Regions from separate parts of the Homo sapiens genome. Here regions 2, 3, 4, 5 and 6 are each linked to region 1. Evidence: fine-mapped expression QTL. A gene starts in region 1. Each other region holds a variant in brackets. All regions are shown on one strand. Distances are between the middles of the regions.

The links. PIP is the estimated chance that this variant, and not a neighbour inherited with it, causes the effect. A credible set is the group of variants that fine-mapping cannot tell apart.
Region 2: its variant is the best candidate, but not a certain one, in a credible set for the expression of STON1 in whole blood (TOPMed, PIP 0.75).
Region 3: its variant is the best candidate, but not a certain one, in a credible set for the expression of STON1 in tibial artery (GTEx, PIP 0.80).
Region 4: its variant is the best candidate, but not a certain one, in a credible set for the expression of STON1 in prefrontal cortex (BrainSeq, PIP 0.51).
Region 5: its variant is the best candidate, but not a certain one, in a credible set for the expression of STON1 in amygdala (GTEx, PIP 0.68).
Region 6: its variant is the best candidate, but not a certain one, in a credible set for the expression of STON1 in left ventricle (GTEx, PIP 0.59).

What each region holds. Positions count from the first base shown.
Region 1 is chr2:48,528,349-48,532,437 of GRCh38, forward strand. STON1 (stonin 1) reads left to right here and starts at 1,806. Exons shown (of 4, transcript NM_006873.4): 1 at 1,806-1,868. It overlaps STON1-GTF2A1L (STON1-GTF2A1L readthrough), which reads left to right and starts at 1,577. Exons shown (of 11, transcript NM_001198593.2): 1 at 1,577-1,640. RefSeq lists an enhancer at 1,799-2,346 and a silencer at 1,938-2,137.
Region 2 is chr2:48,324,054-48,328,141 of GRCh38, forward strand. All of the region lies in intron 1 of FOXN2 (forkhead box N2), which reads left to right. Among named protein-coding and RNA genes, the nearest start is that of FOXN2, 11 kb to the left of the region's middle. The variant T/G (reference allele first, on the strand shown) is at 1,788.
Region 3 is chr2:48,579,019-48,583,107 of GRCh38, forward strand. STON1-GTF2A1L (STON1-GTF2A1L readthrough) reads left to right here. Exons shown (of 11, transcript NM_001198593.2): 2 at 1,569-3,545. The coding sequence starts at 1,616. It overlaps STON1 (stonin 1), which reads left to right. Exons shown (of 4, transcript NM_006873.4): 2 at 1,569-3,545. The coding sequence starts at 1,616. Among named protein-coding and RNA genes, the nearest start is that of GTF2A1L, 37 kb to the right of the region's middle. The variant C/T (reference allele first, on the strand shown) is at 2,437.
Region 4 is chr2:48,551,034-48,555,122 of GRCh38, forward strand. All of the region lies in intron 1 of STON1-GTF2A1L (STON1-GTF2A1L readthrough), which reads left to right. The region is part of intron 1 of STON1 (stonin 1); the gene reads left to right. Among named protein-coding and RNA genes, the nearest start is that of STON1, 23 kb to the left of the region's middle. The variant G/A (reference allele first, on the strand shown) is at 2,253.
Region 5 is chr2:48,351,161-48,355,249 of GRCh38, forward strand. The region is part of intron 3 of FOXN2 (forkhead box N2); the gene reads left to right. Among named protein-coding and RNA genes, the nearest start is that of FOXN2, 39 kb to the left of the region's middle. RefSeq lists a silencer at 2,077-2,126. The variant T/G (reference allele first, on the strand shown) is at 2,346.
Region 6 is chr2:49,308,657-49,312,745 of GRCh38, forward strand. The region is part of intron 2 of LOC105374595 (a long non-coding RNA gene); the gene reads left to right. Among named protein-coding and RNA genes, the nearest start is that of FSHR, 160 kb to the left of the region's middle. The variant G/A (reference allele first, on the strand shown) is at 2,000.

The DNA of each region.
Region 1 (4,089 bases):
AGTACCTGTCTGTTTCCATGGAACAATCTCTGACAAGTTAACCAGCCAGTCAGTTGACTTCCTATTCCCTAGGCTCTCCTCTTCCCTAGGCAAGTTGCCCTTCCTCAACTCTTAACCATTACTGGAAGGTAGCTGGAGGAAATGAGAAGCTGAGGAGAAACCAGTGCCTTTTTCTGTGTTTAGGATATATTAAGCATAAGCACAATTAGTAGTTTTATCTGAGAATAAAAGTATCCTAAATAGATCCTGGCTGTGTGATTTCAGGCGCTCGAGGAGTGCCCTCCTGGAACGTCAGTTTCCTTCCTCAAAGCCCCGAGGGCAGGTTCTTAACACTGGCTGGAGGTCAAATAGGGTACTGACTATATTTCCATTTCACCAGCGAACTCCAAGGTCAAAAACAAGGCTACACCTGACAGAACATTTAAAAAAGAATTACACTGCTGTGCAAATACAAAGAAGTGTCCACTGATTTTCACCAACCCTGGGTGCACTGCCTATGAGTTAGCCCAGCTCCTCAAGGAAATTTACGATTAAAAAATAATTCATTGCCTTTCCACCTTCCAGCATAGTACTTCAAGTTGAGATGCTCACCGGGGCCTCCTAACCCCTCTCTTTGGATGCAACCCCTTTCTTCCTAGGTGGTCCATCCTACAGGACTGTTAAACCAATATTTCTTATTTGCCATTTTGAATCCTCAAGGATTCACTGAGTGCCTACTCTACACCTTCGCTTGAAAACTTTCAGAGATTTCCTGTATTCTGCTTCATGCCCAGCTCCACCTTCCCATCTAAACATTGCCCACTTACCCTAAGCCTTCCAGTCTTGCCAACCTCCAAAGCACCATGCCATGGGGCCTAAAATGCCCTCTTCTCTCCCCTCTGAGCCTGTTCAAACTCAGCTCAGTCTCTCGTCCTGGGTTTTGGTGTCTCTCCAGGGTAAAGGGGTGGGGAGGGTGCCTTCATTCTGACTGGCTCCCAGTGAGGCAGCCCCCCTTGAGGAAGAGGCTGAGATGCCAAGTGACTTGCCTGGAGTCATTTGCCAGCAGGCGATGGAATAGGGACTACGAGACACCCTGCAGCCTCTCCTGGGAGGACAACGCCCCTTCTCCCTCTCCATGCACTCTTGAGGCAGCAAAGAGGAGGCATCTGGACGCGTTTACCTCCTCCCCACCCCCACAGCTTGGCCCTCACTAAACTATCTTGTGTCCTTCCTCCTGCTATGATTGATTCGCCCAGGAAGGTGGGGCTTCATCTTTACCTTTCAAATATAATTCTTTAGTTCTCCTAATTACAAGGTGGGGGGTGGGGGGTGGGGGTGGGGTGAGGCGGGGGGTACAAAACAAAACAAAACTCCATGAAGCAACTTAGAAAGCACGACCGCAAAGGCCCTCCATCATCCCCACCCAGAGGTGAGGACAAGGTCTGGGGGTGCTGGGTGGCTTCAGACCTTCCACGGGTCCAAGCTATCTGCTTCAAGAGGGCATCGAAAGGTAACTCATAGACTTACCGCCCCCGCCCCCCGACTTTTGCAGGAGGGAGCGCTCTCCCCTCCTCTGGGAGGCTGGAGACTCGGGGACAGAAGATGCGCTGGAGGGAAGAGAACGGAGCGTCGGACACCAGAAAAACTTTGGGGGATTCGGGGTGAGAAAGAAGGCGTGAAGAGAGAAGGGAGGCTCAGCAGGGGAGGAGGGGCGGGGGCGGGGGCGGGAGCGGGAGGAGTCACTGCGCCGCGGCCGCCCCTCCCCGCCCTCCACTCGGCGGCCCCGGGTCTTCCTCCCCCTCCTCCTCCCCCTCCTCCTCCCCCTCCTCTTCCTCCGCCTCCTGGTGTGGCTGGCTGCGGCCAGAATCGGAGCCCCAACCGCGCTGCCGGTGAGTGACCAGCCCCAGGGGACAGAGACGGGAGGCCTGGGACCCCCCCTCTCCAGGGTGGGGCCTCCCGCCGTGTCTGGGAAAGTTTGCGGGCGCCCCGGGACGCGGGCATCTCCAGGGCCGCTCGGCGCCTCCCCATCTCCCCGCGCCCGCCCTGGCCGCCCCCAGGGGCGCCCTGGGGCCCGCAGAGGGATGGCCTCCCGGCAGGGACTCCTCGGCTCCCCTCTGTTCTGAGACTGCTGCTGGGACCGGGGTCCGACTCTAAAGAGAAAACTCAAACAGCAAAAAAAGGAATATCGACTCAGTTCCGAGGGCGGGGGCCGGGGCTCGTTCTCACCCGCGCGCGGCCCCTCGACCTCTCGGACCCGGGCCACCAGCTCTGCGCCCCTCACGCCTCCCTCGGGGTCTCTGTGTCTCTCTCCCGCTCCCGGACTCCCTCCTCCTTCTGACTGCTGTTATTTGGGCTGTTGTCCCTCCCCGCTCCCTGGTACCTCAGCTCGGACCTTAGCCTGTGCCTGCAGCCCGGAGTCCCCTCCTGCCCTGGAAGGCAAGGAGCCAGGCCACGGGGCCACAGCCGCGGGGGCCACCACACTGGCCCAAATATTTCCTGCAGGTATGACCATTCACTGGGTATTGGGGTTGGGTCCCTTGGACCCACAAACTGAACCTCGTGGGTACAGGGAAAAATTAAAATATATTCCTCCTTAGGATTGTACTGCTTCTGTTGGTTTGGCATCTTTTTATTTTTAACCCTTCTAACTGTGCTTTCTTCGAATAATAATGATACTTCATGTAATTAGCGTTTCTAATATCTAAAGACAGAAGAAGGAAGAAAATAAACGGAAGAGAGAGAATGCTTGCTAAAAATACTCATTTTTGACTTCAGTCCACACTCGACTGTTTTCCTGGGAGATAGAAGTTCAGTGTAGCTTGTTTTCAGACTAACCGCAAACACGATTACAGCCTCCTCCAGGCTAGAAGTTTTAATTTGCCTGACATGCAGCACACTGTTTGTTGGTATTCCCAGCCTGGCATTCCCGTCTGCATAGCTCTAGTCTCCCTCCCAACTCCCCCACCCCCACTTTCTTTCTCATAAAAGGGAGCTGTGAAAACAAGGCAATGGGAGAGGCTCAAACGAGCTGGACCACATAATAAAAACAGCCCTACTTATTTTAATCCTGAGGCTATGGACTCCCCTGGACTCTGATTGGGTGGAAGAATTGTTTAGTTCATTTGTGTGGTTTTTCTGTCAGTAGTTATTATGGTTGAATCAGTGTTTCCATGACAGTCTTGCTTCTGTGGGCACGATGGGGAGCCTGTTAATTCTCGGATGGGTCTGGACAGATCAAGTCTGGAGTCTGGAGAGATTTTTCAGGGCTTGACCTGGGCTGATATTGCAAACCTCTGCACACTCACTCAGAACCAGAGCAGCCGGGAGCAGCCTGAGCTGGGGTTTTCTTCCACATGATCTGGGAAGAAAAAGCTCTACCAAGGAGCGAACTGTGTGAGCATGGTTGCTGGGGGATGTTGAATGTTTTACGTTTTTAGGAAGAACACACTTCTCAAAACTTTAGCCATTCCTGTTTCCATACAAACAATAAATGTGGTTGTAACAAATGTAGTAGATCAGATTCTGAACAACCCCTTAAAAAACAGGTCCAAGTATTGAACCATTTGGAAATAAAGATTTTATTTTATTTGAATTCTACTGGAAATAAAAGAGTTTATGTTAAAAAGGATGTAATTCACTTCTCTCCACTGATGCAGTTTGACAGTTCCCCATTGGTATGAATCAGTTAGGTTTTATTGTGGTCTCAAAACATCATTAAGGCAGGGCACAACATCATTAAGGCAGGGCACGGGGTTCATGCCTATAATCCCAGCATTTTGGGAGGCCGGGGCGGGCAGATCACTTGAGGTCAGGAGTTCGAGACCAGCCTGGCCAACCTGATGAAACCCCGTCTCTATTAAAAATACAAAAGCTAGCTGGGCCAGGTGGCGGGAACCTGTAATTCCCAGCTACTTGGGAGGTTGAGGCGGAAGAATCGTTTGAACCTGGGAGGCGGAGGTTGCAGTGAGCCGAGATTACACCACTGCACTCCATCCTGGGCGACACAGCAAGACTCTGTCTAAATAAATAAATAAATAAATAAATAAATAAATAAATAAATAATTGATAGGCAAGTGTTGTGACTGTGACTTCCATTCAAAAAGTAAGTCC
Region 2 (4,088 bases), 200 kb before region 1:
TTTGCTATACTATTGTCATATGTCATCAACTATCTCTTAAGTAGAGACCTGAAATTTAGAAAGTGAAAAGGTCACAAAGTAGAATGGAAAACATAGTATAACGCATAGTATTCTGTACGTGAATGACAAATTGCTCAGTAATTTTTTTTTTTTTTTTTTGTGACAGAGTTTCGCTCTGTCTCCCAGGCCTGGAGTACAGTGGCACAATCTTGCTCACTGCAACCTCCTCCTCCTGGGTTCAAGTGAGTCTCCTGCCCCAGCCTCCCAAGTAGCTGGGATTACAGGCACCTACCACTTTGCCTGGCTAATTTTTGTATTTTTAGTAGAGACGGGTTTTGCCATTTTGGCCAGGCAGGTCTCGAACTCCTGACCTCAAGTGATTTGCCTGCCTTGGCCTCCCAAAGTGCTTGGACCAGTAAATATTTTAATGAATATCATATTTCATCCTTCAAATTTTTTTTTGTTTCATGTAGTTTGATTAAAATGACTTCTTTGTTTAGTTAAAACAAAACTTGATGTGGTATGATTTGGGTATAATTTTCCCTTTGTACTTCTATTCAAATTGGCAGCAAGTTAGAGCCAGGTTGTGCTTGCTTTTGAAGTACTCTGCTTAGGGATATTGAGTCCATTGTTTTCTATTTTCTTTCTTTGGTTAACGATACTTTTGACTTGGTGTGTATTAAGTATCTTATAAAATAACTTTAGTGTTTATGAAGTGATCTCATGTCTATTGTTTATTTTGGTCTCTTAACATAAATAACTACAGTAAAAAAGAGGAAATGTAAATGCAGTTGGAACACGGAGAGATTGAAAGACTCTAACAGAAAAAAGTTGGGGTGGGAATTATGTGGAGGAGTTGTCGTTAAATTAGGTCTTAAATATTAGGGTTTGACTGAATGATGAGAGGGAAGGTAGACAATCCAGTTGTTAGAATATCAAAAGCAAGCATATAGAGAAATGTATTTGAACAGGATTAGTATAGTTTGGACTGACTTCTAATACAGAAGCATTAGCTTGAGGATGTAGATACTGAATCAGTTATTGATTTTTGTTTGTTTGTTTGTTTTTGGTCTTTTGTACTTAAAAAGCAATCTAGGCAGGATGTCAGGCTAGTGTAGCAGTGAATAGTGTGAATTCTGGAGCCAGTACTTCCAGTTTGGAGCACACCGTTTAATCCTTCTCTATGTGTGTTTCTGCATATAAAATAGACACTAATAATGGCAACTACTTGATAGGGTTGTTATGAATAAGATTAAAAGAGTTAATACTAGTAAAGTATTTACAACAATACCTGTTACCAATAAGCATTCAATGAGTTTTTTAAATTTATGAAAGTACTAGCTCTTTCATTTTATGTGTGTGTGTGTATTTGTAATGTATACATACATGTGTGAGTATATATGGAATATAATGTGAGTGTATGTGGAATAAATACCGAAAGGAAATGTAGATCTCACATGTATGTATCTATAGGAAAGGTAGTAATATTTGAATTTCAGTTTTGATTAGAATTTAGATTATTATAATAAAGTCTAACATCTCATTTTACAGATGGAAAAATTATGTACTAGCAGAACTAGAACCAAGATTTGCCAGACAACAAATATTTGAGCAGTAAACAAAACAGACAACTAGCTCTGCCCTTATGAAGCTTTCAGTTAGTCAGGAAAGATATGTATTAAACCATCTCAGGTGTGACAAATGTTATCAAAAGGTTCGAGTACTATGGGAGAGTAGAACTGGGGCCCCTCCATAGTCTGGGATTTTAGAGAATTCTTCCCTCAAGA[T/G]TTCTTTTTTTTTTTTTTTTTTTTTTGAGACGAAGTTTTCCTCAGTCGCCCAGGCTGGAGTGCAGTGGTGCGATTTTGGCTCACTGCAAACTGTGTCTCCCAGGTTCAGATGATTCTTGTGCCTCAGCCTCCCAACTAGCTGGGGTTAAAGGCACATGCCACCACGCCCAGCTAATATTTGTATTTTTAGTATAGATGGGGTTTTTGCCATATTGGCCAGGCCAGTCTCAAACTTCTGGCCTCAAATGATCTGCCTGCCTTGGCCTACCAGATTGCTGGGATTACAGACATGAGCCACCGTGCCCGGCCTTCTTCTCCCAAGATCTCCAAGCTGTGGTGTGAATAATAAATAGCAGTTAGCCAGGGTTAGGTGGAATGAAGAGTGTTCCAGGCAGAGGGACTAGGATTTGTATAGGCTTTGAGAGAGGAGAAAGCATGGTCTATTCAGATATCCGAAATGGAGAGAACAAGGGAAAGAGTGGCAAAAAATGTGACCTGAAAGGTTAGAGCATGGCTAAAATACGCAGGGTCTTGTATACAAGGTTAAGGATTTTGACCTAAGGGTCCCCTTGATGGATTAAGCAGGTAAGGGACATTGCTAGATTTACATTCTGCAGTATTACATTAGTGTATTACAGAGAACAAATTAAGAGAGAGTCTGGCATAAGTTTAGGGAGATTAATTTAGGAAGATACTGTAGGAGCTACTGTGTGTGGTTGTGCAGAACACACCATAGGGGTTTCCATTCATGTATACTGGTTGAGCATCACTAATGCAAAAATCCAAAATCTGAAATGCTTCAAAATCTGAAGTTTTCTGAGTGCCAACATGCCACAAGTGGAAGATTCCACACCTGACCTAATGTGATGGTTTGTAGTCAAAATGCAGGTGCACAACACATAGTTTATTCAGCATCTCCAAGGGAAAAATAAAATTACCTTCAGGCTATTTGTATAAGATATATATGAAACATAAATGAATATTATGTTTAGACTTGGGTCCCATCCCTAAAGTATCTCATCATGTATATACAAGTAAATATTCCAAAGTCCCAAAAAATCCCCAATCCAAAGCATTCTGGTCTCAAGAATTTTGGATAAGGAGTGAGTATTCAACCTATACTACCTTTGGAGTGGTCTGGATGAAAGATAATGTTGACCTAGGCTATAGTTGTGACAGTGAAAATGGAGAAATGTGGACAGATTTCAGAGGTATTTCAGATTTAATGACTCCAAAATTTATCTCCAGACCAGACCTCTTTCCTGAACTTTACGTCACGTATATCCCAAATGCCTGTCCTACTTGGATATCTCACAAATGTCTCAAATTCAACAGGTTTTTAAAACAAAACAAAACAAAACACTGCAAACATTAATCTGTCTCCAAAAAGAAAAAAAACAGTCATTTTCTCTTCCAGTATTTATAGTAGCAAATAGAACTAACATCCACTCACTTGCTAACCATGTCTACTAGTAGTGACCACTAGACTACTTAGCTATATGTAGCTGCAGTTGATATGGCTTATTAGAATTTAGGTTGTATTCCATATAAGTTTATTTAGAAACATTTATTTTAGAAAGTATTACTTTCTAAAATGATCTGGAGATAGTCTTTTTTTTTTTGAGATGGAATTTCACTCTTATTGCCCAGGCTGCAGTGCAATGGCACGATCTTGGCTCACTGCAAACTCTCCCTCCTGGGTTCAAGGGATTCTCCTGCCTCAGCCTCCCAAGTAGCTGGGATTACAGGCATGTGCCACCACGCCCAGCTAATTTTGTATTTTTAGTAGAGACGGTGTTTCTCCGTGTTGGTCAGGCTGGTCTTGAACTCCCTACCTCAGGTGATCCACCTGCCTTGGCCTCCCAAAGTGCTGGGATTACAGGTGTGAGCCAACGTGTCCAGCTGGAGATAGTCTTTAATAACATTAATATCTTTAATAATTTTTTAGCATAAATATATTTTTAAGTCAGAGTACGTATGAGGTTAATGTAGCCCTATTTAAAATCAACTTAATTCTGTTAATTGTATTTTTGTTTTGTTTTTAGAATTACATATAAAATCAATATATTAAACCAATCAGTAGAGAGTCCTAAGTTTTACTCTTGCTTTCCAAATTTGACATTGGGGCTATTAGTAAGGTATCATTGTCTGCATTTATTAGATTTATTTCTGATCATGAATATACTTTTAAAAGATGCTTCTTTTCAGTGGAGCAATTTATTTGGCTATAGGTGATATACTGCATGACTATGACTTATATTCAAGGCATTGAAATATTATTATACATAAACAAATTTTGAT
Region 3 (4,089 bases), 51 kb after region 1:
TTGAGACAAAGTTTCGTTCTCCTTGCCCAGGCTGGAGAGTAATGACACAGTCTCTGTTCACTGCAACCTCTGCCTCCCGGGCTCAAGCGATTTTCCTGCCTCAGCCTCCTGAGTAGCTGGGATTACAAGTGTGTGCCACCATGCCCAGCTAATTTTTTGTATTTTTAGTAGAGATGGGGTTTCTCCATGTTGGCCAGGCTGGTCTCGAACTCCTGACCTCAGGTGATCTGCTCTCCTCAGCCTCCCAAAGTGCTGGGATTATAGATGTGAGCCACTGCACCCAGCCCTCTTTCTTCCTTTTTTTTTTTGAGACGGAGTCTCACTGTGTTGCCCAGGCTGGAGTGCAGTGGCGCATTTGTGGCTATAAAGTTCCCTGTGAGTACTGTTTTGGTGTGCTGTGTTTTCATTTTCATTTGTCTCAAGATATTTTCTAATTTCCTTTTTTATTTCTCCTTTGATCCATTGGTTGTTCAAGAGTATGTTAATTTTCAAATATTTGTGAATTTTTTAGTTTTCCTTCTATTATTAATTTCTAGTTTTATTCCATTGTGGTTAGAAAAAATGTTTGTGTGATTTCAATCTTCTCACATTTGTTAAGATTTGTTTTGTAACCTAACGTGATCTGCTTTGGCAAATGTTCTGTGTGTGCTTGAGAAGAATATGTGTTCTGCTGCTGTTAGGTGGAATGTTCTGTATATGTATGGCAGTTTAGTTGAGTTTATAGTGTTCAAGTCTATTGTTTCTTTAGTGGTCTTCTGTCTGGATGTTCTGTGTATTGTTGAAAGTATGGTGTTGAAATCTCCAATTATTAGTGGGTGGCTATCTATTTCTCTCTTCAGTTCTGTTAATGTTTGCTTCATATATTTGGGTGCTCTGATGTTGGATATATAAATATATATATATTTTCAGATGGAGTTTCACTCTGTCACCCAGGCTGGAGTGCAATGGCACTATCTCAGCTCACTGCAACCTCTGCCTCCCAGGTTCAAGAGATTCTCCTGACTCAGCTACCTGAGTAGCTGGGATTACAGGTGCCCACCACCATGCTTGGCTAATTTTTGTATTTTTTTGTAGAGACAGGGTTTTGCTATGTTGGCCAGACTGCTCTCGAACTGCTGACCTCAGGTGACCTGCTTGCCTCGGCCTCCCAAAGTGCTGGGATTACAGTTGTGACCCACCATTCCCAGCTGGGTTAATATATATTTATAATTGTTGCGTCTTCCTAGTGAATTGACTCTTTTATCATTATATTATGTCCTTCTTTGTCTCCTATGATAGTTTTTGACTTAAAGTTTATTTTGCTTAAGCATGGCTACTCCTGCTCTCTCTTGGATAACATTTGCATGGAATATGTTTTTTCATCCTTTCACTTTCAGCATATGTCTGTCTTTAAATCTAAAGTGAGTACCTTATAGACAGCATACAGTTGGATCATGTTTTTTTTTTAATCCACTTAGCCACCAACAGAATTATAATTTTTAAGCATTTATCAGAAGTAAAGACATTTAGTAATGATTCCCCCCTTCATTTTATATACCTATTTTCTCTTTATTTTATTTTTTTAACAGAGTCAACCTATTTGATTTCTTGACAAGACCACAATCTGATCCCAAAGATGTGCTCCACAAATCCAGGCAAATGGGTCACCTTTGATGATGATCCTGCTGTTCAATCTTCTCAAAAGTCAAAGAATTTTCCTCTGGAGAATCAAGGTGTCTGTAGACCAAATGGACTGAAGCTGAACCTTCCTGGCCTCAGGGAATTTCCCAGTGGATCTTCCTCCACCAGCAGCACTCCTCTCTCCTCCCCCATTGTAGATTTTTATTTCAGTCCAGGACCTCCAAGTAACTCTCCTCTTTCTACACCTACCAAAGACTTCCCAGGTTTTCCTGGCATCCCCAAAGCAGGGACTCATGTGCTTTATCCTATTCCAGAATCATCTTCAGACAGCCCACTCGCAATATCAGGAGGAGAATCTTCCTTACTGCCTACCAGACCAACATGTTTATCCCATGCCTTGTTACCCAGTGACCACTCATGTACACATCCAACTCCCAAAGTAGGTCTTCCAGATGAAGTTAATCCTCAACAGGCTGAAAGCCTAGGATTCCAAAGTGATGATCTCCCCCAGTTTCAGTATTTTCGAGAGGACTGTGCTTTTTCAAGTCCATTTTGGAAAGATGAAGGCAGTGATTCCCATTTCACCCTTGACCCACCAGGAAGCAAAAAGATGTTCTCATCAAGAAACAAGGAGATGCCTATTGACCAAAAAAGCCTAAATAAGTGTTCACTCAACTATATCTGTGAGAAGCTTGAACATCTCCAGTCAGCTGAGAACCAAGACTCACTTAGAAGTTTGTCTATGCACTGTCTATGTGCTGAAGAAAATGCCTCTTCCTTTGTCCCCCACACACTCTTCAGGAGTCAGCCAAAATC[C/T]GGATGGTCTTTCATGCTGAGAATTCCTGAGAAGAAGAATATGATGTCTTCCCGGCAATGGGGACCAATTTTTCTGAAAGTTTTGCCTGGAGGAATTTTGCAGATGTATTATGAACAGGGATTAGAAAAACCATTTAAAGAGATACAGCTTGATCCATATTGTAGGCTTTCTGAACCCAAGGTTGAGAACTTCAGTGTAGCAGGAAAAATCCACACTGTGAAGATTGAACATGTGTCTTACACAGAAAAAAGGAAATACCATTCTAAGACAGAAGTAGTTCATGAACCTGACATAGAGCAGATGCTGAAGTTGGGGTCCACATCGTACCATGACTTCCTTGACTTTCTGACTACTGTGGAGGAGGAGCTGATGAAGTTGCCAGCTGTTTCAAAACCAAAAAAGAACTACGAGGAGCAAGAAATTTCCTTGGAAATTGTGGACAACTTTTGGGGTAAAGTCACAAAAGAAGGAAAATTTGTTGAAAGTGCTGTGATAACTCAAATTTATTGCCTCTGCTTTGTGAATGGGAACCTGGAATGCTTTTTAACCTTGAATGACCTTGAGTTGCCGAAGCGAGATGAATCCTATTATGAGAAGGACTCAGAAAAAAAGGGGATTGATATTCTTGACTACCATTTTCATAAGTGTGTGAATGTACAAGAATTTGAGCAATCAAGAATCATTAAGTTTGTACCTCTGGATGCCTGCCGGTTTGAGCTGATGCGTTTCAAGACTTTGTATAATGGGGATAATCTTCCCTTTTCCTTGAAGTCTGTAGTGGTTGTCCAGGGAGCATACGTGGAACTTCAGGCTTTTGTCAACATGGCCTCATTGGCGCAGAGGTCATCCTATGCTGGTTCCTTAAGGTCCTGTGACAATATAAGGATACACTTTCCTGTCCCATCGCAGTGGATCAAGGCCCTTTGGACCATGAACCTCCAGAGGCAGAAGTCTCTGAAAGCTAAAATGAACCGCCGAGCATGTCTGGGGAGTTTACAGGAACTTGAATCTGAACCTGTCATTCAAGTCACTGTGGGGTCAGCAAAATATGAGAGTGCCTACCAGGCAGTGGTATGGAAGATAGATCGGCTTCCAGACAAAAATTCAAGTAAATATTCAACACCCCAAGTTTATTTTCATGGGAAATAGCTTAAATATTCTTACCTTCCTCCTTGGGTTGAAACCAGGTAGAGACAGATGGCAATTTGTCAGCTGAGGCTGTGCTTTGGGGTAGGAGATGGAACATTTAGCTAAACAGCTGGTTTATTTGTTTCCTTTTGCACCTATTTCTACCAGATAAGTTTAACTGTTGAACATTTTTTAAATATCATACGAAATACCATGCTAGGCTAGGAATTTGTTGTGGATGGCGGCACTAAGAGAAAATTCGTTGATATCCATGGTTGAGATTAACGCATCAACTTCAAATGTTAAAAATATTTCTAATATAGCTGAGATTCCCTAATTAATCTCTAAAGATCTGTCATCCATGAATATACCTGAACTTCTTTGCATTCTCAGCTGATACCACTTCTTCCTTAGGTTTGCTCCCTGCTCTTTGAAATAAGACTGCTTTCATTTTTACCCAAATTGATTTTTGTTGACTGAATTCACCCATTTGGTCATCTCAACTTGTATTGTTTTTGTTTTTG
Region 4 (4,089 bases), 23 kb after region 1:
TTATTTTTTCAACTTTTAGATCATTTTAGATCTAGGGGGGTACATTTGCAGGTTTGTTACCTGGGTGGCATTCACTCTAAGCCAATCAAGAACAACTTCTTCTTAAACCTGGAATTAACATCTATGCTCTGGTGTGTCCTGACTTGTGTCAGGCACCCTAGTTATGTGGCCAAGTGGAACATCGCAACAGGGAGAATGGGTTGGACTATAGATGGGTGTTTCCTGGGTAAATTTGTTATGGGTGAGAGGCTTGGGGACATAGTGCAACAAATCTGAGTCCTCCTGCAGTGAAGGAAGGTCATGCCCCAATGCTTCCAGGGCTGGGGTATGCAATTGAGCTCATAGTTCAAGTTCCCTTCCCTACTTTCCATGGCCTGTGCCATGACCAAGGGCCAAGCCCCTCTGACCCTGCCCCTGCCCCTGGCCTTGTCTTGTTGGCTCAGCTTGATGCCCTAGATACCTTCCTAACCTTCAGATGGTAAAGTCTCTGCCAGCTGTGGCTACCTGCCTGATTCTGGGGACGGGGCGCTTTGATGGAGATCCTGAGCTGTCTGGAAGTGAATTTTTCTCTGACAGAATGTCCTTTTGCTGCTTCCTCTCCCTTTCTTTCCCAGCCAGAAGCAGTTAGTCTCCCGCATTTTCCTTGGCATGGCTCTTGCCTTGCAAGGAGCATGTAAAAAACTCTGGGATGAGTCAGAACCTGGCTGAAGTGTCAGGTACATTTACCAAACATTGATTGGACTCCAGGCCCTCAGCCTATGCCAGGGCAGAGAACCCAGGCATGAATAAGATCCTATCATCCCCTGTGCTGGAGTTGCTCCCAGCCTAGAGACCTGAGGAGACACCCAGCCCACTGTGACAAGTGATGTTGGGAGCTCCAACCCGGATTCCTGGTCAGTCACCAACTTCACCTACTCTGAGGGTTAGTTCCTGGTGTCCTGTGTTTTGGGTGGACTCTCCAGGTCCTGACATCTGCCGTGGGAACCCAGCTCTGCTTTCCATGGCTGCATTGCCTGCTGCTCCAGTGATCTGTTGCTGCAGAGCAGCTACTCCAAAATGTTGAGGTTTTCATCAGCAGATGAATGGATAAACAAAATGGGGCATGTCCATGCAATGGAATATTATTCAGCCTTAAAAAGGAATGAAATATTGATGTAAGCTTCTGTATGGATGGGCCTTGAAGACATAATGCTATGTGAAATAAGCCAGACACAAGAGGACACATACTGTATGATTCCATTTATATGAGGTACTTAGAGTAGACAAATTCATGAAGACAGAAGGTAGAGTGGTGGTTGCAGGGGCTGGAGAGAAGATGAATGAGGACTAAGTGTTTTATGGGTGCAGAGTTTTAGTTTGGAAAGATGAAAAAGTTTTAGAGGTGGATAGTGGTGATGGTTACACAACAATGTGAATGTATTTAATGCCACTAAAGTGTACACTTACAGGCCGGGTGTGGTGGCTCATGCCTGTAATCCCAGCACTTTGGGAGGCCGAGGTGGGCAGGTCTCCTGGGGTCAGGAGTTCGGGACCAGCCTTGCCAACATGGTGAGAGCCCGTCTCTACTAAAAATACAAAAAAAAAAATTTAGCAGGGTATGGTGGCAGGCGCCTGTAATCCCAGCTACTCAGGATGCCAAGGCAGGTGAATCGCTTGAACCCAGGAGGCAGAGGTTGCAGTGAGCTAAGATGGCACCACTGCACTCCAGCCTGGGCAACAGAGTGAGACTCCATCTCAAAAAACAAATAATAATAATAACTAAATAAAAGTGTACACTTACAAATGGTTAAAAGGGTAGATTTTATGTATGTTTTATCACAGAAAACATGTAGAGGTTGAAAATCACAATTTAATATTTTCTCTTCTGGTTCTATGGGTTGACTGGGCTCAGCTGAGTGGTTCTTGCTTGAGGTTTCTCATGTAGTTGCAGCCTGATGGCAAATGGACATCCAAGGTGGTGCCTTGGAGTGGCTGCTCCATGTGGCTTCTCTATCCAGCAAAGTAGCTGGGCTTCTTACATGGCATCTCAGACTCTGACAAGTCAGAAACGGAAGCTTCTGGGTCATTTCAGGGGTATGACTAGAATTGTCACAACATCATGTTTGCTACATTGTATGGTCAGAGCAGTGACAGCGCCCACCAGATCCAAGAGGAGGGGAAACAGAGTCTTCCTCTTGATGGAAGAGGGGCAAGATGACATTTCAGAAGAGCAGGGTATGAAAGATATTGTTGCTGTGCCTTGGAAAACCTCC[G/A]GCCTGAAGGCTCAAGAGTTTAGACAGAAAGGCAGCTTCAGGGGGCAAATACCTCTCTGTAGACCCTTCCCTTCCCTTCTCTTCCCTTCCCTTCCCTTCCCTTCCCATCCCGTCCCATCCCCTCCCCTCCGCTCTTCCTCCTCCCTTTCTCTCTCTCTCTCGTTTGTTTTGTTTTGTTTTTTTCCTGTCCTGTCCTGTCCTTTCCTCTTTCCTTTTTTTGAGGTGGAGTTTTGCTCTTGTTTCCCAGGCCAGAGTGCAATGGCATGGTCTCGGCTCACTGCAACCTCTGCCTCCCGGGTTCAAGCGATTCTCCTGCCTCAGCCTCCCAAGTAGCTGGGATTACAGGCACATGCCACCATGCCTGGCTAATTTTTTTATTTTTAGTAGAGACACAGTTTTATCATGTTGGCCAGGCTGGTCTTGAACTCCTGATCTCAAGTGATGCACCTGCCTCGGCCTTCCAAAGTGCTGGGATTACAGGCGTGAGATACCATGACTGGCCTTAGACCCCTTCTTAGGAGAATTGATCCTCGTAGATTGTTTGAGTTTGAAGGGACCTTGGAAACTGCTTGATAGCAGTGACTTGTTCAAACTTACAAAGGCAGAGAGAAGCAGAGTTAGAAGAAAACCTAAATACTGGCTTCATGGTTCCCAGGCCAGGCAAATAGCTGTGGGGACTTCACCCAAAGGACTTCTGTGTGCTGTGAGCAGGAATACAAAGTCTGTTGGAGAGATGGGTGTGGGGAGAGAGCAGAACCCTGGGTGGTGTCCAGTGGAGACCATCCATCACCTTAGAGGTGGTGTGAGCTCCTGGTTGTGCTGGGCTGCATCTGTTGGGAGCTAGTGTGCCTTGCTGAGCTGGGCTGTGCAGAGGCACCTGAGATGACTTGGGCTTCCTGAGGAGGCTGGGTGTTACTCCTTTATTTTATTTTATTTATTTGTTTATTTGTTTTTGAGACAGAGTCTCTCTTTGTCGCCCGAGCTGGAGGGCAATGACACAATCTCGGCTCACTGCAACCTCCACCTCCCTGGTTCAAGCAGTTCTCCTGCCTCAGCCTCCCAACTAGCTGGGATTACAGGCGTGCACCACCATGCCCAGCTAATTTTTTGTATTTTTAATAGAGACGGGGTTTTACCACGTTGGCCAGGCTAGTTTCGAACTCCTGACCTCAGGTGATCTGCCTGCCTCGGCCTCCCAAAGTGCTAGGATTACAGGCGTGAGCCATTGCGCCCGGCCTTTTGCTTCTTTAAATTGGACTCAGAGTTGGGAGGAAAGAGGTTAGCCTGCCAGGGGCTCAAGCACCCAAGGTTGAGACTTAGAGATCTGTAAATTTACATATAGGCTAAGGTCGAAAATGTCAGTTGGCACATCCAGTCATTGGCTCCCACGTATGCGTTTCTACTCAAACTTTAAGTGCAAAATTTTTTTTTTTTTTTTTTATTTATTTATTTATTTTTTTATTGATAATTCTTGGGTGTTTCTCACAGAGGGGGATTTGGCAGGGTCATGGGACAATAGTGGAGGGAAGGTCAGCAGATAAACAAGTGAACAAAGGTCTCTGGTTTTCCTAGGCAGAGGACCCTGCGGCCTTCCGCAGTGTTTGTGTCCCTGATTACTTGAGATTAGGGATTGGTGATGACTCTTAACGAGCATGCTGCCTTCAAGCATCTGTTTAACAAAGCACATCTTGCACCGCCCTTAATCCATTTAACCCTGAGTGGACACAGCACATGTTTCAGAGAGCACAGGGTTGGGGGTAAGGTCACAGATCAACAGGATCCCAAGACAGAGGAATTTTTCTTAGTGCAGAACAAAATGAAAAGTCTCCCATGTCTA
Region 5 (4,089 bases), 180 kb before region 1:
CATGCTGCCCAGGCTGGTCTCTAACTCCTGGGCTCAAGCGATCCACCTGTCTCAGCCTCCCAAAGTGCTGGGATTACAGGTGTGAGCCACTGCACTCGGCCAAAGTTGAATCCAATGTTTTTCGTTTTGTTTTGTGAGACAGAGTCTCCCTCTATCGCCCAGGCTGGAGTGCAGTGGTGAGATGGTTCCTGGCGTGAAGGAGTTTAAGTTTTAAAAAGTAAGAAGGCAAACAGTTAATCATAATACGATATAGAAAGAAATATCATAATAGCAACATGAACAGAGTCAGAGAGAAGTTGATTAATTATTACCTAGCACAGTGGTCCCCAAACTTTTGACGCTAGGGACTGGTTTTGTGGAAGACAGTTTTTCTGCTACCTGAGGTGGGGACATGGGATATGGTTTTGGGATGAAACTGTTCCACCTCAGATCATCAGGCATTAGATTCTCATAAGGAGCGCACAGCCTAGATCCCCTCACATGCACAGTTCACAATAGGGTTTGAGCTCCTGTGAGAATCTAATGCATGGGCTGATCGGACAGGAGGCAGAGCTCAGGTGGTAATGCTTCTCAACTTCCACTCTCCTCCTGCTCTGTGACCTGTTTCCTAAGAGGCCATGGACCTGTACCGGTCTCCAGCTTGGGGGTTGGGGACCCCTAAACTAAAAGATTTGGGAAATTTTTATGGAAAAGTTTGCCATTGAAGTGTGCTTTGAAAAAAGAGAACAGGTTTTAGAAGGGTAACATATGCCAAAGGGCAATAGTATATTCTGCTGGGAGTTTGGGGCAGTAGGCATATTCTCTGTTGGTGAGGAATGTACGAGAGCAGGGTGGAAAAGCAGAGTGATCCAGAATAGAAGTGTGATGAATATCATGCTTGGACTTCAGTTTTGGGCTTCAGTTGTTTGGACTTCAGTTTTGAGAGCAAACCAGTGAGAGTTTTTAAGCCAGGAGCATGATGGAGTTTCTCTGTATTTGACTTGTGACAGTGTGAATGATAGGGCAATATATTACCTTAAACAATATCTGAATTCATTTGCCAAAGGAATGTTACAGTTAGTAGTACCATGCAAACAGAGATAGTTTCAGTGAAGATGTGGGATTTGAACACTTTGTAATCATTGCCCTCCTTATGTCTAAATCCACTGACTTCTTTTCTGTCTTACTCAACCTAAAACTGCATTATATGACATGATTAGCTCTGGGAATTCATCTTTTCTTTGATTTGTATAACACTGTGCTTAATTCTTTGTTTACCTGTGTGGACTCTCCATCTTTTTCTTTTGCCACTTGCCATTTAAACTTTAGTGTTCACTATTTTGTCTTTTTTGTTGATTTAGTATTTTCTTAATCTCATTAATTCCCATGGCTTAATATGTCGTCTGTGATCTTATGACTTCTAGATCTTTCTCCTAAAGCCCAGACGTAAATTTGCAACTAATTATTAGATCTGGAGGTATCTCAAATTCAGTGTGTCCGAAATTGGACTTTATTCCTCTCTCTTCTCCAAGGATCTATTTGGGTCTCAGCTAGAAATCTGAGTCATCTTGGGTACCTGCTCTTTGCAATGCCTAAGTTATTTGAATGTCAAATTTGAAAGGAATATAGACATTATCCTGATGAACTTCCTTATTTTATAACCAAAAAAGTGAGATACGTGGTATTAATTGATCCTGGTCTAGAAAGCCTGTCAAAGCCAGGGGTTAGATTCAAGAAAAAGCAGTATCTAGTAGCACCTATAAATACCTACAAGTTGCTTTTTGATTCTGGCCATTTCTTTTAGTTTCTACCATAACATTGGCCTTAGTTCAGGTCTTCCCCTCATTTCTCATCAAATTGAACTATTATATAAGTTGAGGAGTCAGCATGAAGGATTGGATTCAGGTATGTTCCTAGATCCAGATAGATGTGTGACTTGGTAAAGTTAGACTCTCTGAGCCTCATTTTTACTTCAGTTTTTGTAACTAGTAACCTTTAGTAAATATGACTTACTAAATAAAAGCCAAACTTGTTAACATGGTTTTCAAGACCCTCCCCAGTTTGGCTTCTGCCTGTCTTTGCAGTTTTTTTTCTTCACTACTCCATGATCTACCCCCACAAGACTACTTGCTATTCCAGTATACTATAAATAGTCCTTGTTTATTTTGTTCCTCTATCTACACTGCATTTTCGTAATTCACTTTCAGTGGAGAGAACATTTCCTCAAAGCCCAGCTCAGAAGTCACCTCTCAAGCATTTCCTGCTTTTTTGTACTCATTTTGTGTTTTTATAGCATTCTGTTTGTTACCTTTATAACATACATATCCCAGTTATGTATAGATTTGCTTCTCCCACTAGGGAAGATA[T/G]GAGAGCTCTCTGAGGTCAAGGCCTTAGTAGAATAGTCACTTAAGACTGTGTGTGTGTGTGTGTGTGTGTGTGTGTGTGTGTGTGTGTGTGTGTGTGTGTGAAAGAGAAAGGGGGGAGTGATATTATTCAATAACCTTTTAAAAGCTCAGCATCTTTTTTCATCTTAATGCATAATTCTCTTTAATTGTGATGTGGATGAACATTTGGGTTTCTAATTTTTTGTTATAAACACTGCTACAGTGAAAATCATCTCCCTATCCTTCCTTCTCTTTGCCTTCTTTGAAATTGATCTCCCTTTATTCTTTTTCCTCTGTTGTGTTGGTATTGTTATCCTCTGTCTTTTTTTTTTAAACACTGTACATATTTCATAATTATTTTATGTAGTCTCCGTTTAAATTTACCCTTATAGTTAACAGTGTCATTGTTTGCTATTGTTTATGCATTTAGAATTTCCTTAGTGATTTTATTCTTGAATTGTGTCACTTAATTCTTTTATACTTTTAGAACTATTGTGTTTATACTTATGATGGTACATAAAAGGTAACCATCTACTAGGTACTTAGAAATATAGGCAGGAATAGAGGTGATGTGGTGAGATTACAGCTCTTAAGTTTGGAATTTATCAGCATTGCTTCTGAGTGGAATAATCTAGGAAAAGTATGGTGTAATGAAGCCAAGGAAGCTAAGCTGAAGTGTGAATGGCCAACAGTGTCAAATGTTGCAGAACACTTGAAAATGATTGGCTAAGAAGAAGTTGTTGAGAAAGTAGCAGCCAAAAGATTAGGATTCAAAATATATAATAAGTGCTGTGCTGGCTGGGCGCGGTGGCTCACACCTGTAATCCCAGCACTTTTGGAGGCTGAGGTGGGCGGATCACGAGGTCAAGAGGTCAAGTCCAGCCTGGCCAACAGAGTGAAACCCCATCTCTACTAAAAATACAAAAATTAGCTGGGTGTGGTGGCGTGTGCCTGTAATCCCAGCTACTTGGGAGGCTGAGGCAGGAGAATCACTTGAACCCAGGAGGCAGAGGTTGCAGTGAGCCGAGACTGTGCCACTGCACTCCAGCCTGGCAACAGAGCGAGACTTCGTCTCAAAAACAAAAAAAAGTGCTGTGCTGATAAATGTTTAACAACTGGCTAGGGACAGGCTGTTTAGCTTTTGCTAAATGTGGAGTTGAGAAGCAATGTTTACTATCAACAGTATACCATTATAGAAGAAACTCATATAATTTAATAAGAAAATGAAAATCTAATAGAAAAATGGGCAAGTATATGAATAGGCAGTTCACAGAGGAGGAAACACAAATAGGCAATAAACATAAACAAAGATGTTTATCTTACTAGTAATGTGTGTGAGGGACATTCAAATTAAAAGAACAAAAAATGCTTTTTTATCTATTAGAATTCAAAAATTTTAAATATTTGAGGACATGAGTAAATATTGATACTTTCACATCATTGATAGGAGTACATTAATATGACCATTCTTGAGGGCAGTAGTTACTAGAATTAGAAATGGGCTCTTCTTTGATCTAGCAGATCATATTCTGATTTCTCCCCTAGAGTAACATTCATAGTTGCATACAAGAAGATGTATGTGAAAATATTCACAGTGGTATTATTTTTAGTAAAAGTTACAAAACCATATGTCCAATAGTATGATTTGTGATAATACTCAAAAGGGAGTTGGTCACATCTATAATTTTTAAATGTATACATTTTTAATGTAATTAATCTGAGTGTT
Region 6 (4,089 bases), 780 kb after region 1:
AAGCATCTAGATGAACATAGGAGAATGGCTTGGTGTCTTCAGGGAGGCCCAGTCTAATCAAACAGGTCCTTAAAAGTGGAAAAAAAAGAAAGAAGAGTGGTCAGAAAGATGAGGCATGAGATGGTCTCAATCTACCACTACTGGCTTTGAAGATGGAAGAAGGGCTTTGAGCCAATGACTATGGCAGCTTGCAAGCTGGAAAAGGCAAGGAAACAGATTCTTATAATATCCAGAAAGCAGTATAGCCCCAGTGACGGTTTTATTTTAACAAACTGAGACTTGTGTCAGACTTCTAACCTATAGAATTGTAAAGTTACACATGTGTGATATTTGAAACCACTAAGTTTGTGATAATTTATTATGGCAGCAATACAAAATTTAAAAAAAAAGGAAATTTAAAAACAAAACATTCCTATTCCTCCTTTATGAAGAAGCTTAAAAGTGACACTCACCTGCTTCCTTTAAACCTAGTTACTCTACCCCTGGAGAGCTCAGAGAACTCTATTTTACTACCATTCATCTTGTTTTACCTTATATTTCTACTGGATTGTGGATTCTCTGTAGGCATCTTTACATCTTCCATTGTATATATGCCAGGCACCGTACATGTGTTCACTTTATATACTAGGTGCTCTATGCATCTTTGGTAAATTACTTTAAATTGAACCATTTATTTGCATGAGGGGCAGCAACCAGGAAAGACAAGATTCCACTAATGTGTTCTCTTAGCCTGCTTAGCAAGCTTTCCACTGCAAAGATACATTAATGCTAGGGTTCTGAATAATGAAGCTGAGGTTGTTTAAAACAGCAGGCTGGCATCAGATGAAACATTTCCATATCATTCTACATTAAATAAAACATTTACCATTTCATGCTTTCTTTTCTGGTAATTTTGCCTTGTCCTTCACGTTAGTGATTTGTTCCACATGGCCACTCATTTAAGATAACAGCAGGCCAAGAGGTGTGACAAATGGAGACAGGGCCATACCTGATCACCAGGATTCCATTACGCTTCCTTGAGTTTAGAACTAGTAAAACTGTCAGTATCTTAAAACAAAGGAACTGTGCTTGAGTCTACATATTAGGAATTCAGTGACTGCAGTAGCAGTGATCGCATTATATAGCAAATGGACAGACATGGCTATAAAGGGAGCCTACAGTCAAAATAAATGAACTGTTTTTCTGTGTCCAGTCAAACAACAAATATTTTCCAGTACCTATTATATGTGTAGCCCTGTGATAAGTACTGCAAAGGGATATGAGGGGGAGAAGATAGATGCTTTATATTTCAAAAATATTTAACAGTGGGGAAAGAAAAGATTAGGAAAAGTAACACAAGGGTGAAACAAGTATATGCAATAAAAATTCAGTGGAGCGAGGGAGCATTTCACCAGGAAGGCTTTGGAGAATTGATAGGAATAAAGGTAGTAGTAACATTTAAGCATTAAGTTGGACAGCTGAAGATGTATGGTGTTGGTATGTGCGGGGTACATTCTAGGAAACACTCTCAGTCCCATTTGTCTCAAACAGGGTTTGTCAACCTCTGCTCTACTGACCTCCCAGTCTGTGTAGTTCTCTGTTGAGGTGGGGGGGGGGCATTGTAGGATGTTTAGCAGCATCTTTTGCCCCTACCAACTAGATGCCAGTTACTTTACCTCCTCTTGGAGGTATGACAACCAAATGTCCCCTGAGAAGCAAAATTGTCCCCAGTTAAGAACCACTGTCGTGGAGTAAAAGTTCAGAGAGAGGAGACATGAGAGTTACATGCCATGTCAAAGAGTTGGGAATTTCATTCCAAAGGTAATGAGGAACCACTGAAAACATTTATGCTGGAGAATGGCAAGTTAAAAAATTGTTTGAACGCAATTTATGTGATGGAAGCACCCGAGAAAAACTGGAGGGAGGTGTTGTAGGGAAAGGGAAGAACAACTTAAAAGCTATCACAATTGTCCAAGCATAAAATGAGGAGGTTTGGTGGCAGCAGAACTAGAGAGCACTC[G/A]GTGGCTATAGGTATTCTTTTTTGTATTTTTAAATTTTATTTTAAATTCAGGATGTACATGTGCATGTTTGTTACATGAGTATATTGCATACTGGTGGGGATCAGTCCTGTAGTATACCCATTACCCAAATAGTGAACATTGCACTTGATAGGTGATTTTTCAACCCTCAACCCCTTCTTCCATTCTCCCCACTGTTGGAGTCCCCAAGGTCTATTATTCTCCTCTGTATGTCCATGTGTACTCGTTGTTTAGCTCCCACTTATAAGTGACTGCGTGAGGTATTTAATTTTGATTTTCTGTTTTTGAATTAGTTCCCTTAGGATAATTGCCTACAGCTTCATGCTGCAAAGAACATGATTCATTCTTTTCATGGCTGCGTAGTATTCCATGGTGTATATCTACCACATTTTCTTTATCCAGTCAACCATTGATGGAAACTTAGGTTGGTTCCATGACTTTGCTATTACAAATAGTGCTGTGATGAACATATGAGTGCAGATGTATTTTTTATATAATTTTTTTTCCTTTGGTAGGTACTCAGTAGTAGGATTGCTGGGTTGAATGTTCTATTTTTAGTTATTTGAGAAATCTCCACACTGTTTTCTATGGAGGTTGAACGAATTTACATCCCCATCAACAGTGTCTAAGTGTTTTTCCCCACATCCTGGTCCTGTGTGTAAGCTTAGATGGAGAAAGGAACAGCCACAAGCAGCAGCTAAAGCAATCTGTAGCTTGGGAACCTTGGCTAGGAACGATTCACAGACTGTTGGTTAGGAAAAAGCAGTGTAGCAGCATAGAAGCAGGCATGTGGTGCCAATCTTCTGAGACCATCTTTCAGGCCCATGGAGAGAAACTAGCAGCAACTTCCAAGCCACCAGAAGCCTCTAAAACAATACATTTTCACTTTCACTCCATTCTGTCTATAAATTTTAAATTCATATCCAATTATGGTAAAAATATTTTAGTAAGTTTTTTTAAATAGTTAAATAGCACTGAAAGGAAAAAGAGGGGAATATATGCTTGGTTCTCCATTCTGTGGCCATTTTTGAAGTTCACTGAACCCAGTTTGGAATTTTGGAAAACCTGTTATTGTGGCTGAGCTCCATGGAAGGTCACTTCCTTCATGTTTTAAAAGTGACACTGAAACACAATAGGTAATTTTCCACGTTTAGGCTACAATGATATAATTAATTAATAAGATTTCCTCAACTGATTAAAAGTTCCATAAGGGCAATTACCACATCATATATTGTTATTCTCTACGTCTTTGCGCAGTAAAATAGGGGCAAATAACAGCTTACGCTTGTCACCTGCCTGAAGTTAAATTCACTGTTACTCATGAGCAAAATGACTTGTGAAAAGAATGAAGTTCTTGATATCACAGGTTGAGGAAATATTCTACCCAAGAGGCATGTGGTATATTACCTTGGAGCACAGGATCAGGAATCAGACAAACTGTGTTCAATTCCTGCAATCACCACTTCTATGTGTATGAACTTGAGAGATCTGTTTACTCTCAGTGCCCCAGACTGACACCTCACACGGCCGGGTACTCCTCTGAGACAAAACTTCCAGAGGAACGATCAGGCAGCAGCATTTGTTGTTCACCAATATCTGTTGTTCTGCAGCCTCTGCTGCTGATACCCAGGCAAACAGGATCTGGAGTGGACCTCCAGCAAACTCCAACAGACCTGCAGCTGAGGGTCCTGACTGTTAGAAGGAAAACTAACAAACAGAAAGGACATCCACACCAAAACCCCATCTATATGTCACCATCATCAAAGACCAAAGGTAGATAAAACCACAAAGATGGGGAAAAAACAGAGCAGAAAAACTGGAAACTCTAAAAATCAGAGCACCTCTCCTCCTCCAAAGGAACACAGCTCCTCACCAGCAATGGAGCAAAGCTGGACGGAGAATGACTTTGACAAGATGAGAGAAGAAGTCTTCAGATGATCAAACTACTCCGAGCTAAAGGAGGAAGTTCAAACCCATGGCAAAGAAGTTGAAAACCTTGAAAAAAATTAGACGAATGGCTAACTAGAATAACCAATGCAGAGAAGTCCTTAAAGGACCTGATGGAGCTCAA